Homo sapiens: one gene and its partner. The protein of the gene in region 1 purifies or fractionates together with the protein of each later gene. This does not show direct contact. Each region holds a gene or a part of one and is shown on either strand. Other genes may lie near its edges.

Region 1 (7,365 bases):
ATGGGGCCTACATAATCTAAAGTATTTGTCCCAGTATTGCTACAAATAGCAAAATTTAGTCCTTACATCCCAAACCAAGTTAGGAGGAAAACCCATTTTTTTCTAGACTGTGAACTTGAATTAGGAATATGAAAACTGCTAAACCTAAAAACCCTTGTTTGGTCAGAGCTTAACTAAGGATGGTTAGTCACTGCTTTTTGGCTTGCTGAACTCCCAGAACCCCTAGTAGACTAAGTATATCAAATAAAAGTGCACAACTCCACTCATGAGCTTGGAAATACAGAACAGACCCCACCTATTCACTTCTGATTCAAATGCACAACCTCAAACTTAGTTTCCTTCTTCTTCAAGGATAGTAGTGTAAAAAACTGCCCATGGGAGCAACAGTTTAGGCCTAAATTTGGGATATAGTAAAATCTGACCTCAGAAATAAGGTGTTTGCCTGCCTGTGCATGCAGATACCCACATTTGGGGGCAAGGAAAGAAAAGGTATCTAGGGAAATAAAAAGAACTAGCTCAGGAATCATGTTTTCAGAACTCCAATACAGGGCCAGGTGAGAGGACTGCTTGAGACCAGCCTGGGCAACATGACAAGACCCCATCTCTAAAAAAATTAAAAACAGGCTGGGCATAGTGGTTCACACCTGTAATCCCAGCACTTTGGGAGGCTGAGGTGGCCAGATCACCTGAGGTCAGGAGTTCTCAATCAGCCCGGCCACCATGGTGAAACCCCGTCTCTACTAAAAATACAAAAATTACCTGGGCATGGTGGCACGCGCCTGAAATCCCAGCTACTCAGGAGGCTGAGGCAGGAGAATCACCTGAAACCAGGAGGCAGAGGTTGCAGGAGCCAAGATCCTACCCCTGCACTCCAGCCTGGGCGACAGAGAGACTCCGTCTCAAAAATAAATAAATTAGCCGGGCATGGTGGCGCACGTCTGTGGTCATGGCTACTCAGAAGGCCGAGGTGGGAGGATCCCTTGAGCCCAGGGGTTTGAGGCTGCAGTGAGCTATGACTGTACCACTGCACCCCAGTCTGGGTGACAAGAGTGAGACCCCGTCTCCAAAAAAAGTCCTAATACATGTTTCATCCTCTACCATGCCATTCAGTGAAGCCACCAAAGCTCATACAAGCTGGGAGTGAGGGGTAGGAAAGGTTCAATTTGGAATCCAGGCTATTTATTCTCACAATTGGCAAAGGTTTCTTCTAAATATGAAGATGCTATTTAGGATGTAAATTCTAGTTTTTCATTAACAAGGTTTCTTAATGCTGCTCTTTTAAAAAACATACTGAAAGCCGGGTGCAGTGGCTCATGTCTGTAATCCCAGCACTTTGGGAGGCCAAGGCAGGAGGATCACGAGGTCAAGAGATTGAGACCATCCTGGCCAACATGGTGAAACCCCATCTCTACTAAAATTACAAAAATTAGCTGGGCGTGATGGCACACGCCTGTAGTCCCAGCTACTCGGGAGACTGAGGCAGGAGCATTGCCTGAACCCAGGAGGCAGAGGTTGCAGTGAGATCGCGCCACTGTACTCCAGCCAGGCAAGAGCGAGACTCCGTCACAAAAAAAAAAAAAAAAAAACTGAAAAAGTTTTCCCAAAAAAACTAAAATTACATTCTGCCCGAGTTAGAAAACAGAAATTAGGACCGTAGATACAAGACCCTTATATCATTTCCCTATTAGCAATGCTACAACACTGGTAATTCTGTGTCACTGATAATTTTGTGTCAAAAATAACATGGCAGGTTTTGAAAAAATAAATCCAAATATGTTTGAATATGGATTGCTACATGTAAAATTTCCAGTCACTGAGAAAAACCAAGATCACACCAGATAAAAAGATTTAATCCTCAATAATTTTGCGTTCCTCAGCCGGGCGCGGTGGCTCAGGCCTGTAATCCCAGCACTTTGGGAGGCCGAGGAGGGCGGATCAGGAGGTCAGATCCAGACCATCCTGGCTAACACGGTGAAACCCTGTCTCTACTAAAAATACAAAAATTAGGTGGCGTGCGCCTGTAATTTCAGCTACTCAGGAGGCTGAGGCAAAAGAGAATCGCTTGAACCCGGGAGCGGAGGTTGCAGTGAGCCGGATCACGCCACTGCACTCCAGCCTGGGAGACAGAGCAAGATTCCGTCTCAAAAAAAAAAAATTATGGGTTCCTCATAGAATACCATAGTTTATTTTATTTTATTTATTTATTTATTTATTTTGAGACGGAGTCTCGCTCTGTCGCCCAGGCTGGAGTGCAGTGGCGCGACCTTGGCTCACTGCAAGCTTCGCCTCTCGGGTTGACGCCATTCTGCCTCAGCCTCTCGAGTAGCTGGGACTACAGGCGCCCGCCGCCACGCCCGGCTAATTTTTTGTATTTTCAGTAGAGAAGGGGTTTCACCATGTTAGCCAGGATGGTTTGGATCTCCTGACCTCCTGATCCACCCGCCTCGGCCTCCCGATCCACCCGCCTCGGCCTCCCGATCCACCCGCCTCGGCCTCCCAAAGTGCTGGGATTACAGGCATGAGCCACCGCGCCCGGCCAGAATACCCTAGTTTAAAACTGACTGCTTAATTACTTGCTTTTTCTCATCTATTGCAGCGGTGGATCTTGCTGACCTTTCTGAGGCAGGCTCCATTTCTTTCTTTAGTTTTTTTTTTTTTTTTTTTTTTTGAGACAGGGTCTCACTCGGGTTGCCTCGGCTGGAGTGCAGTGACACGATCACGGCTCACTGCAGCCTGGACTTCCTGGGCTCAAACTCCCGAGCAGTTGAGACCACAGGCGTTCACCACCATGCCCGGCTAATTTTTATATTTTTTGTAGAGACGGGGTTTCGCCACGTTGCCCAGGCTGGTCCAACTCCTGGACTCATGCTACCTGTCTGCCTCGGCCGTCCTCCTAAAGTGTTGGGATTACAGGCGTGAGCCACTGCGCCCGGCCTCAGGTTCTATTTCTTTTTAGAAATAATAAGACTAGAAAAATTAAGGGATAAATAAGTCTCCAATTATTCTGAACCCACAGCCCAGAATGGCTGCCCCCAAGTGACCAGAGAACAGACGGACAGGAAATGAGATTAGAAACAACTAGTAGCTGTGTCGCAAAATTGATAAGAGTCCTGGTTCTAGAACCGCGCTGCTTGGCCGCAATTCCTGGCTGCACCAATTTGGTAGCTGCATGACCTTAGAAAAGATATTTAACCTCTATGCTTGTTTCCTCATCTGTAAAAATGGCACTAATAGTACCCAACACTTACTTCATAGGAATAGTGTGTAGATGAAATGAATTAGGGCCGGGCGCGGTGGCTCACGCCTGTAATCCCAGGACTTTGGGAGGCCGGGGTGGGCGGATCACTAGGTCAGGAGTTCGAGATCAGCCTGGCCAACAGAGTGAAACCCCCGTCGCTACTAAAAACACAAAAATTAGCCAGGCGTGGTGGCGGACACCTGTAGTCCCAGCTACCTGGGAGGCTGAGGCAGGAGAATCGCTTGAACCCAGGAGGCGGAGGTTGCAGCGAGCCGAGACCACGCCACTGCACTCCAGCCTGGGCGACAGAGCGAGATTCCATCTCAAAAAAAAAAAAAAAATTAATTAGTGCATATAAAGCACTTGGAATAGCAAGCAGTCAATAATTATAGCAGCACTCTTTCTCTGGGAAAGAGCTCCCTCTTCCATCACAGAATCACATCGTACATTCTTTCATTGTCCCCAAAGACACACACCTTCCTCAAAGAAAAGGAACACAAGGCCAGGTCTTCCGAACCTCCATAGAAGATGTGGTAGGGATTCCTAACCTGAGCTGGGGCAAGGCGGTCTGTTTGCTCCCCAAATCTGTGAAACGCGGGCTTCAGAACATCTGACTGACTGCAAACATAGGTCATATTTTTACAAGACTTTAGTCCACAAAACATTTTCGCTCTCAAACCTTCACTACATTCACAGAATGCAGAAGCCGAGGCCCAGAGAAAAACTAGTCATCTATCTGTCCAAAGTCACCGGACGAATTCTGGGGAAAGGTCGAGGGAACTAGAGCTCCCGACTATGCAAACCCTAGAGGGTAAACTGGGGGCTAAGAGGGCCCCGTGCGTGTTTTGGCGGGCTAGGTCCTGGGCTTCAGGGCAGAGAAGAGGGCCGAGTGGATCGCCTTGCCTTACCTCCTCAGGATCTCCGGATTCGGTAAGCATCTTTTGCTCGTCCTCCAGTCCCATGTCTGGCTACGGTTCTAGATTCAACACGAGCAGCAACAGCGGCACCTAACCCAGTTCAGGATCAAGAAGGACTTGTAAGGGTCACTCAGCGGAAATCCGGCGATCTGGCCGGAAGTGCGGCACACTCATCGTGGTCGCGAACACATGCTCAGATTGGCATGTACTACCAGCCGCAGGCAGAGGTTAGGGGTAGCTGATGTTTGCACCCGAGGAGGCTTTGCTAAGAAACATCCCCTTAGTCATACCACACCCAAGTATAATTGATCTAGGAGTTTATCTAAAATAGTAGCTCCTAAGAGACTTGGAAAGTGTGCTAATTTCTTCGAAATTTCTTTAGAATAATTCACATTCTTCCCCATATCGCTTATGGAGCCGTCCTAACTGCTGACCTTTTCAAGATGGCGGTCCGCGGGCGACACTCTCGGGCTCGCGCACCTCCCCAAGATGGCGGCGCCCGAGGCCTGGCGCGCCCGGAGTTGCTGGTTCTGTGAGGTAGCGGCGGCAACGACCATGGAGGCCACGTCCCGGGAGGCGGCGCCAGCGAAGAGCTCGGCCTCGGGCCCCAACGCTCCCCCCGCCCTGTTCGAGCTGTGCGGGCGGGCGGTGAGCGCCCATATGGGGGTTCTGGAGAGCGGGGTGTGGGGTAAGTCGCGGGGTGAGGGGCTACCTCTGGCTAAGAGCAAGGGGCGGCCCAGCGGCCGGGGGGCGCGGGGGGCGAGGCCGGGAGGCCCGGGGCAAGGCCCAGCCTGGGGCGCTGAAAGCCAGCTCGTAGGATCGGAGAATGAATTTTGTGACTGACAGGGCTGGACAGAGTAAAGACGGAGACCTAAATGGGCAGGCTGACCCGCACCGCGGCCTGGCTCGGGGGCGCGGGGGGCGAGGCCAGGAGGCCCGGTCTGGAGCGAAGCAGGCTGGGCCCGGGCGACTGAGGCTGGATTGCGGCTGTGGGCCGCGCGAACTGACACTCGGCTGGGCCGGGCAGGAGAGTCTCGGATGTCGAACCGGTGGGCAGCGATGGCCCGGCTGCCCTAGGGCAGGGGCCGAGGTTAGGAGGCCCGGCCTAAGGCAAGGCCAGGCCAGGCCCGGGGCCACCGAACCTGACTGATGGCCCCGGGGCTCCAGCATCTGCCTGACACGCCACGGGGGTCGAGATTCCGGAGGCCAAGCCGATGGGCGGAGGGGAGGACAGCAGATTGGAGAGCGAGGGAATGGGGCAGGGGGAGAGGCCGAACGAAAGGGTCGGGGCGCCGCGGCCTGTCTGACGGCCCAGGGCTGACGGGAGCGAACCGACAACCGGGGTCTCGGGTGCCAAACTGACTAAGCGACCGAGCGACCGTGCGACCCGCAGGACAGGGAGCGCCGGAGGCCACTCGGATCGGCTCGAGCGGCGAGGAGGGACCGGAGAGCGAGTGGAGGGGGGCCCGGAGCGGCTTAAACAAGCGAGGGAGGCTCGAATGACGGACAGGCGGGAAGGGCCAAGGAGGCCCCAAGCGGGGCGACGGCCCGGGGATCCCGGACTGCCGGGCTGCCGTGGCAGGGGGCGCGGCGCCGCCAAGAGGCCTTGGGCTGAATGGGAGTGAACGGGGGCCCCAGGCCTGAAGGCGGCCGGGACCAAAGGGCCGGGCCTGGATGGAGGGCGGCCTGGGGCGCCGGGATGAACGGCCGGGGAGGGCGAACCGGCCAGTTGGGCTGGGAGGCGGGGCTGTGGGTTGGGGACCGCTGGCCGCGGCCTGGCCGCTGACGAGGGAAACTTGGGTCCGACGTGGGGCAAGTGAAAGAGGGGAAAGTGAGGCTCTGCCAAGCAGGCCTAGCCGCGCTGGGGACAGGGGAGGCCTCGGGCCTGAGAGGCTGCTGGCTCTGTGAGGGTGGGGTCGGGAGGCCGGGGTTGGAGTTGGGCGAAGAGGTGGCAGGCCCGGCCGAGGCCTGCTGGGGAGGGGGGCAGGAGAGCAGGCCCCGGGCCTGGAAGCGGCGCGGGGGAGGTTCCACCAGGAGGCCTTGCGGGTGGCCGTGGCGTCTTTGCAGGAGGAAGGCCCTGGTCAGGACAGGAGTGAGGACTTTGAGGACTCGAGGTTGCAGGGCGCGGAGTTTGAGTTATGCCATGAGGAGGGGGTGTGGGGAAAAGGCCCTGGAGTTTGGGGGGACTGAAGCTCCGGGATAAGCTGGAGGGTGGTCGGGGAGGCCCTTGGCTGTGGGAGTGGAGCCCAGTACCATGAGGCCTGAGTGTCCTGCATAGTGGTGGTGGAAGAGGCTTTTAGAAGTCGGCCGGTGTGCGGAGGGGACAGTGGAGGCCCCAGGCCAGCCAGCGGCTGAGAAGACAAGGGGCAGGCCGACCCATGGGGAACAGGAGGAAAGGCTCCGTAGAGCTGAGCAGGGAGCTCAGAAAAGTCCTAGGGCATGGGGAAGAAGGCAGAGAGGGTCTGGCTTTTCCGCCTGGAGCTTCTGGGATGCTAAGACTGGCTAAAAAGGAAGATGACTGGGTGCGGAGGCCCAGGTTGGGAAGCAGCAGCATTAAAGGTGCAGGCTAGAAAGAAGCAAGGAAAATCCCGGCTTAAGAAGAATGGAGAAAGGAAGAGAGGAGTTTGTGGGTAACTGGGGATGAGAATTCCTGTGGCTGCAAGAAGAGATGGCTAACTAGAGGGGAGCAGGTTGGAGGGAAAAGGGGTAAGGCTCTGGAGGAACTTCTTCCCGTGTGGCCTCTTCCCCCTAAAACAATTGACAGTTTACTGAATCTCCCTTTCCCCTTCTCCCTCCCCTACCACTGCTGTACATACCACCATCCCATTACTGGCTGAGCCCCCAGCCAAGTTGAGAGGAGACAGGGGAGGAAGAGCTCCTGTGGGCCTAGACCAGAAAAAGCTGAATCAAGTGAGGCCTTTTAGGAGAATAGCCAAGGAAGAGGCCTGCTAAGCATTGCTATTTTAGAGGAAGGTCTGTGTGGGCTAACAGCCAGGAAAGGCTTCCTGGAGGTAGTGGACTAGCATCGCTTTGTGTAAGGAGTTGGGGCAGCGGGTGTATAGAGGCAGCAGGAAAGGGTACAATGAGGAAACTTTAAAATAAGGTATATTATACCTTGAATACCAGGATATGGAGTTTGGACTTTATCATGAATGCAGCAGAGAGACCTCCAAGGGTTTTGAAGAGGGTAGTGTCATCACCAAGAGCAGG
Region 2 (7,856 bases), on another chromosome or scaffold:
TGAGCCCAGGAGGTTGAGGCTGCAGTGAGCTGTGATCACACCACTGTACTCCAGCCTGGGCAACAGAGCAAGACCCTGTCTCGAAAAAAAAAAAAAAAAAAAAGGTACAGCCCAAATATATGTATGAAAAATGATCCAAAAATAGAGTTGTTAGCTACTCTACCTATGGTGTAGCCCTGCTCTGCCTATGGAGGAGCTGCCCTTTTATAACTAAAATAAACAAATTAATTAATTAAAAAGAGTTTTGTTTTTGTTTTTTTGTCTTTCAAATTCTGTAAATTGTATGACTGACTGGGTTTTCTTTTTTTCTTTTTTCTTTTTACAATGGCTGCCAACAAGTTCAGAGTCAAATCTGTGGCCCTTCTCTACCAGGTGCACAGATCTTACGCCATTCCTTTTAGTCCTAAATCTTATCTCGCTTGGCTTCGACTTATTTTTCCTACGTTTTCCCTTTGCATCAATTTTTTTACTTATTTTTAATCTTGTTGATGATATAGGTTTACATTTCTGTAAGCCAATATAAATCTACTTTGGTTTTGTTTTTTCTTTTTTTTTCTTGAGACAGAGTCTAGCTCTGTCACCCAGGCTGGGGTACAGTGGCATGATCTCGGCTCACTGCAACTTCCACCTCCCAGGTTCAAGCGATTCTCCTGCCTCGGCCTCCTGAGTAGCTGGGATTACAGGTTCGTGCTACCATGCCCAGCTAATTTTTGTATTTTTAGCAGAGACGGGGTTTCACCATGTTGGTCAGGCTAGTCTCGAACTCCTGACCTGTGATCTGCCCACTTCGGCCTCCCGAAGTGCTGGGATTACAGGAGTGAGCCACCGCGCCTGGCCCTACTTTGGTTTTCTTAAGATGAGATCTCGCTCTATCACCCAGGATGGAGTGCAGTGGTGCCATCACAACTCACTGCAGCCTCAACCTCCTGGGTTCAAGCAGTCCTCCCAACTCAGCCTCCCAAGTAGCTGAGACCACAAACATGCACCACCATGCTAGGATACTTTTTTTTTTTTTTTTTTTTTTTGAGACAGAGTCTAGCTCTGTAGCCCAGGCTGGAGTGCAGTGGTACAATCTCACTCACTGCTACCTCTGCCTCCTGGGTCCCGATTCAAGCAATTCTCCTGCCTCAGCCTCTCAAATAGCTGGGATTACAGGCATGCGCCACCATGCCCAGCTAATTTTTGTATTTTTAGTAGAGATGGGGTTTCACCATGCTGGCCAAGCTGGTCTTGAACTCCTGATCTCGTGATCCACGCCTTGGCCTCCCAAAGTGCTAGGATTACAGGCGTGAGCCACCGCACCCAGCCTTTTTTTTTTTTTGGTACATCTTCTTTCATACCTATGGGGACCCCTCATTTCTAAGCCCATAGAGACAGGGCTTTGCTGGTTCCGAACTCCTGGCCTCAAGCAATCCTCCCGCCTCAGCCTCCCAAAGTGCTGGAATTACAAGGGTGAGCCACTGCACCCAGCGCATGTAAATCTATTTTGTATCAGTGCAGGATATAAATAAAACTACAGTACACTTAGACAATATTCATTTGCCTCTGAAACCGGCAGAATAAAAATAAACACAGTTCAAGAATTCATGCTTAGAAAATATAAATCTACTTTAGTAGAACATCTTTAGTTATTTTTCTGTTTTTAAAAAACTTTTTTTTTTTTTTGAGATGGGGGTCTATGTTGATCAGGCTGGTCTTGAACTCCTGGCCTCAAGTGATCCTCCTATCTCAGCCTCCCAGCATGCTAGGATTGCAGGCGTTGAGCCACTGCACTGGGCCATCTTTAGTTATTTTTAAACCACATGTATGTACTATTTTGACAAAAATTATACCTAAAAATATATATATTGAAGAAGAACACAAACCTTCTCCTGGACCTCCACCACCACCACCCTTTGGAGTAATGAGTTCTCGACGAAGCTTAGCAAGACGAGCCTTAAGCAGCCCTAAGTGGTGTGCTGTGGCCTTGTTCTTTTGAGTCCGAGCCATCTAAAAGGGAGGAATCACAGCCATAAATTAGAAGCAGTGAACGCTTCCCCCAGCTTTGAGAGGATAATTTTTTTCCCCAAGTCCTACTAATGTTAGCACACCCAGTTTACAGGCTTTAAAAGAGTAAAAGTCCATTATCTCCTCCATCCAGCTCATTTCCCTCACTACAAAGCAAAGCAAAGCCCAAAGAGGAAAGACGATTAAGGTCATTCCAATTAGTGCCCCCAGACTAGACTGAAACCCGTCTGCGGGTTCCTTTTCTACTATTTGCAGCTGTTTGGATCCATCTAACACTGGGACACCACTTTCCTAATTGTAAAGCGCTCTCAGGGCCGCACGCAATGGAATCACACACTATCCAGGCGGAATAAACTGCTCCCACACAGATGTCATTTTACTTCCAGATCCGATTACCGGGAGCAAATACTCTGAATCAGGGGGTCATTAGGGTAGACACTGGGAAAAGGGGGAATAAGGGGGACGCAGCGAAGGATGATGAGGAAAGATCCTGAACTATCTGACCAAGTCAGAGATGGAATAAGGGACAGGATTCAGTGTTTCTCAGAGCAAAACGGAAAGAAACAACATCAGAACAGGAGCCAAACACTGGGAGGGGGAACGGACTAAGGGCCTAAGGTGCAGGGGTGCGGAACGCGGGCCCGGGCAAAGGGGAGTCCGAGAGCGTAGACGCGGGACGAGGGGAAAGGGGGCCCTGACTGAGGAGAGTCGGGGACTCCTAATCGTGGCAGAGGGCAGTCGGAACACGGGCCTCGCTGAGAGAAGTCGCGGAATCTAGGCCCGGTCCTGACGCGGCTCAAAGGAGAACAGGAAGGAGCGACGCCACCAAAGAAGGAATGCTCAGACTAAGAGTGAACCGCCAGCTGCGTCCATTACCTCTGCTTCTATCTCCGCGATCTTAGCTAAGGTGCTGCTCATCGTGGCGAGTACCCTGTGGCCTCCACACTGTCTCCCTTCACACACCCGCGGGCAAACTGCCACCGCCACCAGGCGCTACTGCAGCACGCAGGCGCGGTACTTCGAATTACCGCGAGAGAGTTCCGCGTAGGGGTCACCGCGAGTCGCAAAGCGTGGGGCTGTCTCCTCCCCCTCACCCGACCCCGCCCCGTCCCGCGAGCCAGTGCGGTGTCATAGAGCCCGCGGGAGCGGAGGCCAGAGAGGCCACCCCTGTCTGGGCCTCCCCGAGCGCGCCGAGGGTCGCGCGCAGCTCGGCCCCGCCCAGCGGGACCCGCTCCCAGCTGCTCTGCATGGTACTGAACGCTTCAGTGCTGGAGACCCCAGGGCGTGGTGCAAAGCCGACTCATGCTCCGCACCCCTGTTCCTCGCCAGCATCTGCGGGTCCTGGGTCCCTTTTTCACAGCTGGGGTGACACCCCGACGCCCTCCATGGTCTTGGAGGGAGTAGAGACCCATCTTCAGCCTGCCTCACCCCCTTGGATAAAGAAAATGCCCCCTTTCTATCATTCAAAATTATTTTTAGGTCGGTTTTGTTTACTCCGAACCCCGAGTAGAGCACATGGGGAGCCCAAAATAAGTGCATACTTGAATGGATAATTCCCAGAGAACTGCTGCTTGCAACATAGTTTGTAATACCAAAAAATTGAAATCTATATTAACACCCATCAGTAGGAAAATGGATAAATGAATAATGCCTCTATCCTGTTTTTGAAATATGATTACAGCCGTTAAAACGTAGATCTGTGGTCTGACTGGCTACCCAGGACATGTTAAATGGGAAAACAACTAGCAGAAGGGCACCTACGTAGTGATACCATTTATGTTATTTTTAAAATTAAATGTACATTTATATAGGTGTACGTGTATGAACGTGCAGTTTAAAGGCCTAAACAGAAAAATACATCAGAAGCTCTTAACTGTGGGATGGGATGCAAAGAAAAGGCCTTTCACATTTTATTCCACAGAATTTTGAAGTTAAATTTTTACAAGACGAATGTATCCATGTATTACTTGTGTAATAATAAAATTTAAAATTTCAAAAGACTCCTCTTCCCCAAGTGTCATGAGGAAGCCAGGACGTCCAGGAACTATGTGGTGGTTTTGAAAGCGGTTTGCCTCAGGATCAATGGGTTGTTTTGATAGATTGATTATTCCAGCGGGAGTCGACAGGCCAGGCTTAACCCACAGTCGACAGGCCAGGCTTAACCCACAGGGCTGGCCTCCACCCAGCCCTGGGAGGGAAGTTTAATTTAGTTAAATTTGTAAACAAGAACTATTCTAACTTCCCAGAGACAAAAAAGGGAGGTTTTCTTGTGCATAAAGAGGGAGAAACAGAAGGGAAAGCTTTTACAGAAGGTCCCCAAAGGGCCAAAGAGAGTTTCTTCTTTCTTTTCTTTAACCTCAGCCTTTTTCATAAATAAATTAAGGGATGATGAGGTAATTAGATCCCACACTATTAGCAATGGAGGAGGGAAGATGAGGAGGTCCAGCTGGAATGGGACATGATCAAAGATCAATCTTAAAAGACAGATAAAATCAAATCAGCAGGCCTATCCTAACTTGAAGTACTTAAGGAATTAATTGGCTGACAATATCAAGGGCATCACTGCTCTGTGAGTAGGTGCTCCTTAGCAAATCTATTATATGAGGCCTGCAGATAAGTTAACACTTACTGCTCAAAGACACCCTGGGACCCACCTTGGGGCCCTGAACTGTCAATAGGCACCAAAGAGTAATACTCATTTTCCCGAGTCCTGGGTGGCCATCCTGTTCATGCAATCGTTATTTACAGAGCTCCAACTGCTGCCTGGCACTGTGACAACACTGGGGACAGAGTAGAGAGTGAATCAGATATGTTCCTGCACATAACAAGTATTTAGGCCGGGCGCGGTGGCTCATGCCTGTAATCCCAGCACTTTGGGAGGCCGAGGTGGGTGGCAGATCACGAGGTCAGGAGATCGAGACCATCCTGGCTAATACGGTGAAACCCGGTGTCTACTAAAAATACAAAAAATTAGCCAGGCATGATGGCATGCACCTGTAGTCCCAGCTACTCAGGAAGCTGAGGCAGGAAAATCCCTTGAACCCGGGAGGCGGAGGTTGCAGTGAACCAAGAATGTGCCACTGCACTCCAGCCTGGCGACAGAGGGAGACTCAGTCTCAAAAAAAAAAAGTATCCAGGCTGGGGCTGGGCACAGTGGCTCACCCCTGTAATCCCAGCACTTTGGGAGGCCGAGGCAGGTGGATCACCTGAGGTCAGGAGTTCGAGACCAGCCTGGCCAGCATGGTGAAACCCCGTCTCTATTAAAAATACTAAAATTAGCCGGGCGTGGTGGCGGGCGCCTGTAATCCCAGCTACTCAGGAGGCTGAGCAGGAGAATCGCTTGAACCCGGGAGGCAGAGGTTGTAGTGAGCCGAGATCATGCCATTGCACTACAGCCTGGAGCCAGGACGACAAGAGCGAGACTCTATCTCAAGGAAGAAAAAAAAAGAAGTATCCAGGCTGGGAGGCCAAGGCCAGGACCTTAGGTTCAGCTCCTAAGAGCCATAGCTACCCCATGTCTGTTAAGTACCAACTGCAGCAAGGAGAGCCCATTTGGTCATATGAATAAAGCACTAGCACCTTGGTATTAAATGTGTAAAAAATAAATAGGCCGGGGACAGTGGCTCACAGTTTAATCCCAGTGCTTTCAGAGGTTGAGGTGGGAGGATCGCTTGAGGCCAGGAGTTCAAGACCAGCCTGGGCATTGAAGCCAGGAGTTCAAGACCTGCCTGGGCAACATAGGGAGACGCCCCATCTCTACAAAAAAAAAAAAATTAGCCGGTCTGCAAAAAATTTAAAAATTAGCCAGACGTGGTAGCACATACCTGTAGTCTGAGCTATGTGTGAGGCTGAGGCAGGAGGATCACTTGAGCCCAGGAGGTCAAGGCCACAGTAAGCCATGATCAGATCACTGCACTCCAGCTTGGGTAACAGCAAGACCCTGTCTCAAAAAAAAAAAAAAAAATTATTCAGGCTTGTTGGCCCGCACCTGTAGTCCTAGCTACTGGGAAGGCTCAGGCAGGAGGTTCACTGGAGCCCAGGACTTTGACGTTACACTGGGCTATGATCCCACCACTGCACTCCAGCCTGGGTGAAAGAGCGAGAAACTACCTCTAAAATAAATAATAAATAAGTAAAACAAAGATTGACAGAAAAGCTTCATCTCTTGATGAGACACTCCCACCATTCCAGAACAATTATATGTGGTCAAATACATAGGCTTTCTCGGGCACTGTTTTACTTCTCTTGACTCCCATTAAACCATGATCCCTGGCCAGGTTTGGTGGCTCACGCCTGGCTCACTCCCAGCACTTTGGGAGGCCAAGGCAGAAGGATCGCTTAAGCCCAGGAGTTTGGGACCAGCCTGGGTAACACAGCAATACCTCATCTCTACGAAAATAAAAAAAATTAGCTGGGTACAGGGGGCAACATGACGAAACCCCGTCTCTACAAAAAATCAGTGTGGTGGTATAATCTCAGCTACTCGGGAGGCTGAGGTGGGCCCAAGAAGACGAGGCTGCAGTAAGCTGTGATCATGCCACTGCACTTCAGCCTGGGTGACAGAGTGGGACCCTGTCTCAAAAAAACAAAACAGACAAAGAAGAAAAAAACAAAACAAAAAAGACATGATCCCATGAGGAAGGAGTGATACTATATCTATCTCCAGCACCAGCAGATGTGCAGCTACAACAACCTCTTGAAAGATATTTTAAAAATGGAAATTTTAAGAGAGAAATTGTTTTTTTTCAAGAAGCAGAAAAGATGTTTGAAGTGATGTATATCCCAGTTACTCTGATTTTATGACACATTGTATACATGTATCAAAATACCACATGTAGCCCCCAAATATGTACAACTATTAAATATCAACAAAAATTTTAGAATAAAATAACATAAAGAGAAAGAAAAAGTATTTAATTTTTTTTCTAAGTAGTCTGTATATGTTATTATAGACACCTTAATAATTGAGTCAGGTTGATGGAAGAAGTAACAGGATAATGATACAAGAAAAATCCATGTTATTTATTTATTTATTTATTATGAGACAGGGTCTTACTGTGTCACCCAGACTGGAGTGCAGTGGTGCAATCTAGGCTCACTGCAACCTCCGCCTCCAGGGCTCAGGCCATCCTCCCACCTCAGCCTCCCAAGTAGCTGGAACCACAGGCTTGCACTGCCATGCCCAACTTTTTTTTTTTTTTTTGTATTTTTAGTAGAGACAGGGTCTCACCATGTTACCTAGGCTGGTCTTGAACTCCTAAACTCAAGTGATCCACCCACCACGGCCTCTCAAAGTGCTGGGATTACAGGCATGAGCCACCACATTCAGCCATTACCATTTTTTTAAGGCTACCTTCTAAACAGATCAAAATTCCAAGTATATTGTAGCAGTAGAGAATGGGAAGCCCTGGATGAAGGATAGTGATTAACTTCATTACTGAGTGATAGATGTTTTCCTTTTAGAATGGGGAATCTCAGATGGGTATGGTGGCTCACACCTGTAATCCCAGCACTTCGGGAGGCCAAGGCAGGAGGATCGCTTCAGCCTAGGAGTTTGAGACCAGCCTGGGCAACATGGCAAGACTCCATCTCTATGAAAAAATAAAATAAGAAAGGGGAATCTCAGGAATGAGCACATCTAGGGCATAATGAAGACAGTTTTTCCCCTACAAATGTGTCTCATAAATGGAAAAAATAAAAGTTTATAAAAGTACTCCTTAAATCAAAGTCTGCTTCTTTCACCATCCAAGTTGGTGATTCCTTGATCCATGTCTAGTCATTTCAGTTCAGTTTGTATTATATGCCAGGGATGGTGACAGACACTGGGAATACAAAGAGACTTTTTTTTT

What was found. Proteins that work in one complex are often made in the same cells at the same time.
Region 2: the proteins of LRRC41 (region 1) and DRG1 purify together in Homo sapiens (affinity purification with mass spectrometry; 5 studies listed by BioGRID and IntAct, with this or other methods). This does not show direct contact.

What each region holds. Positions count from the first base shown.
Region 1 is NC_000001.11:46,300,602-46,307,966, reverse strand, and holds the start of LRRC41 (leucine-rich repeat-containing protein 41), read left to right. Parts: upstream 1-4,350; 5' UTR 4,351-4,644; coding exon 4,645-4,843; intron 4,844-4,935; exon of another isoform or gene 4,936-4,981; coding exon of another isoform or gene 4,982-5,204; intron 5,205-7,365. Other genes in the region: UQCRH (cytochrome b-c1 complex subunit 6, mitochondrial isoform 1 precursor), read right to left, coding at 4,147-4,200. UniProt on the Homo sapiens protein: Probable substrate recognition component of an ECS (Elongin BC-CUL2/5-SOCS-box protein) E3 ubiquitin ligase complex which mediates the ubiquitination and subsequent proteasomal degradation of target proteins.
Region 2 is NC_000022.11:31,394,753-31,402,608, reverse strand, and holds the start of DRG1 (developmentally-regulated GTP-binding protein 1), read right to left. Parts: upstream 3,006-7,856; 5' UTR 2,926-3,005; coding exon 2,884-2,925; intron 1,990-2,883; coding exon 1,866-1,989; intron 1-1,865. UniProt on the Homo sapiens protein: Catalyzes the conversion of GTP to GDP through hydrolysis of the gamma-phosphate bond in GTP. Appears to have an intrinsic GTPase activity that is stimulated by ZC3H15/DFRP1 binding likely by increasing the affinity for the potassium ions.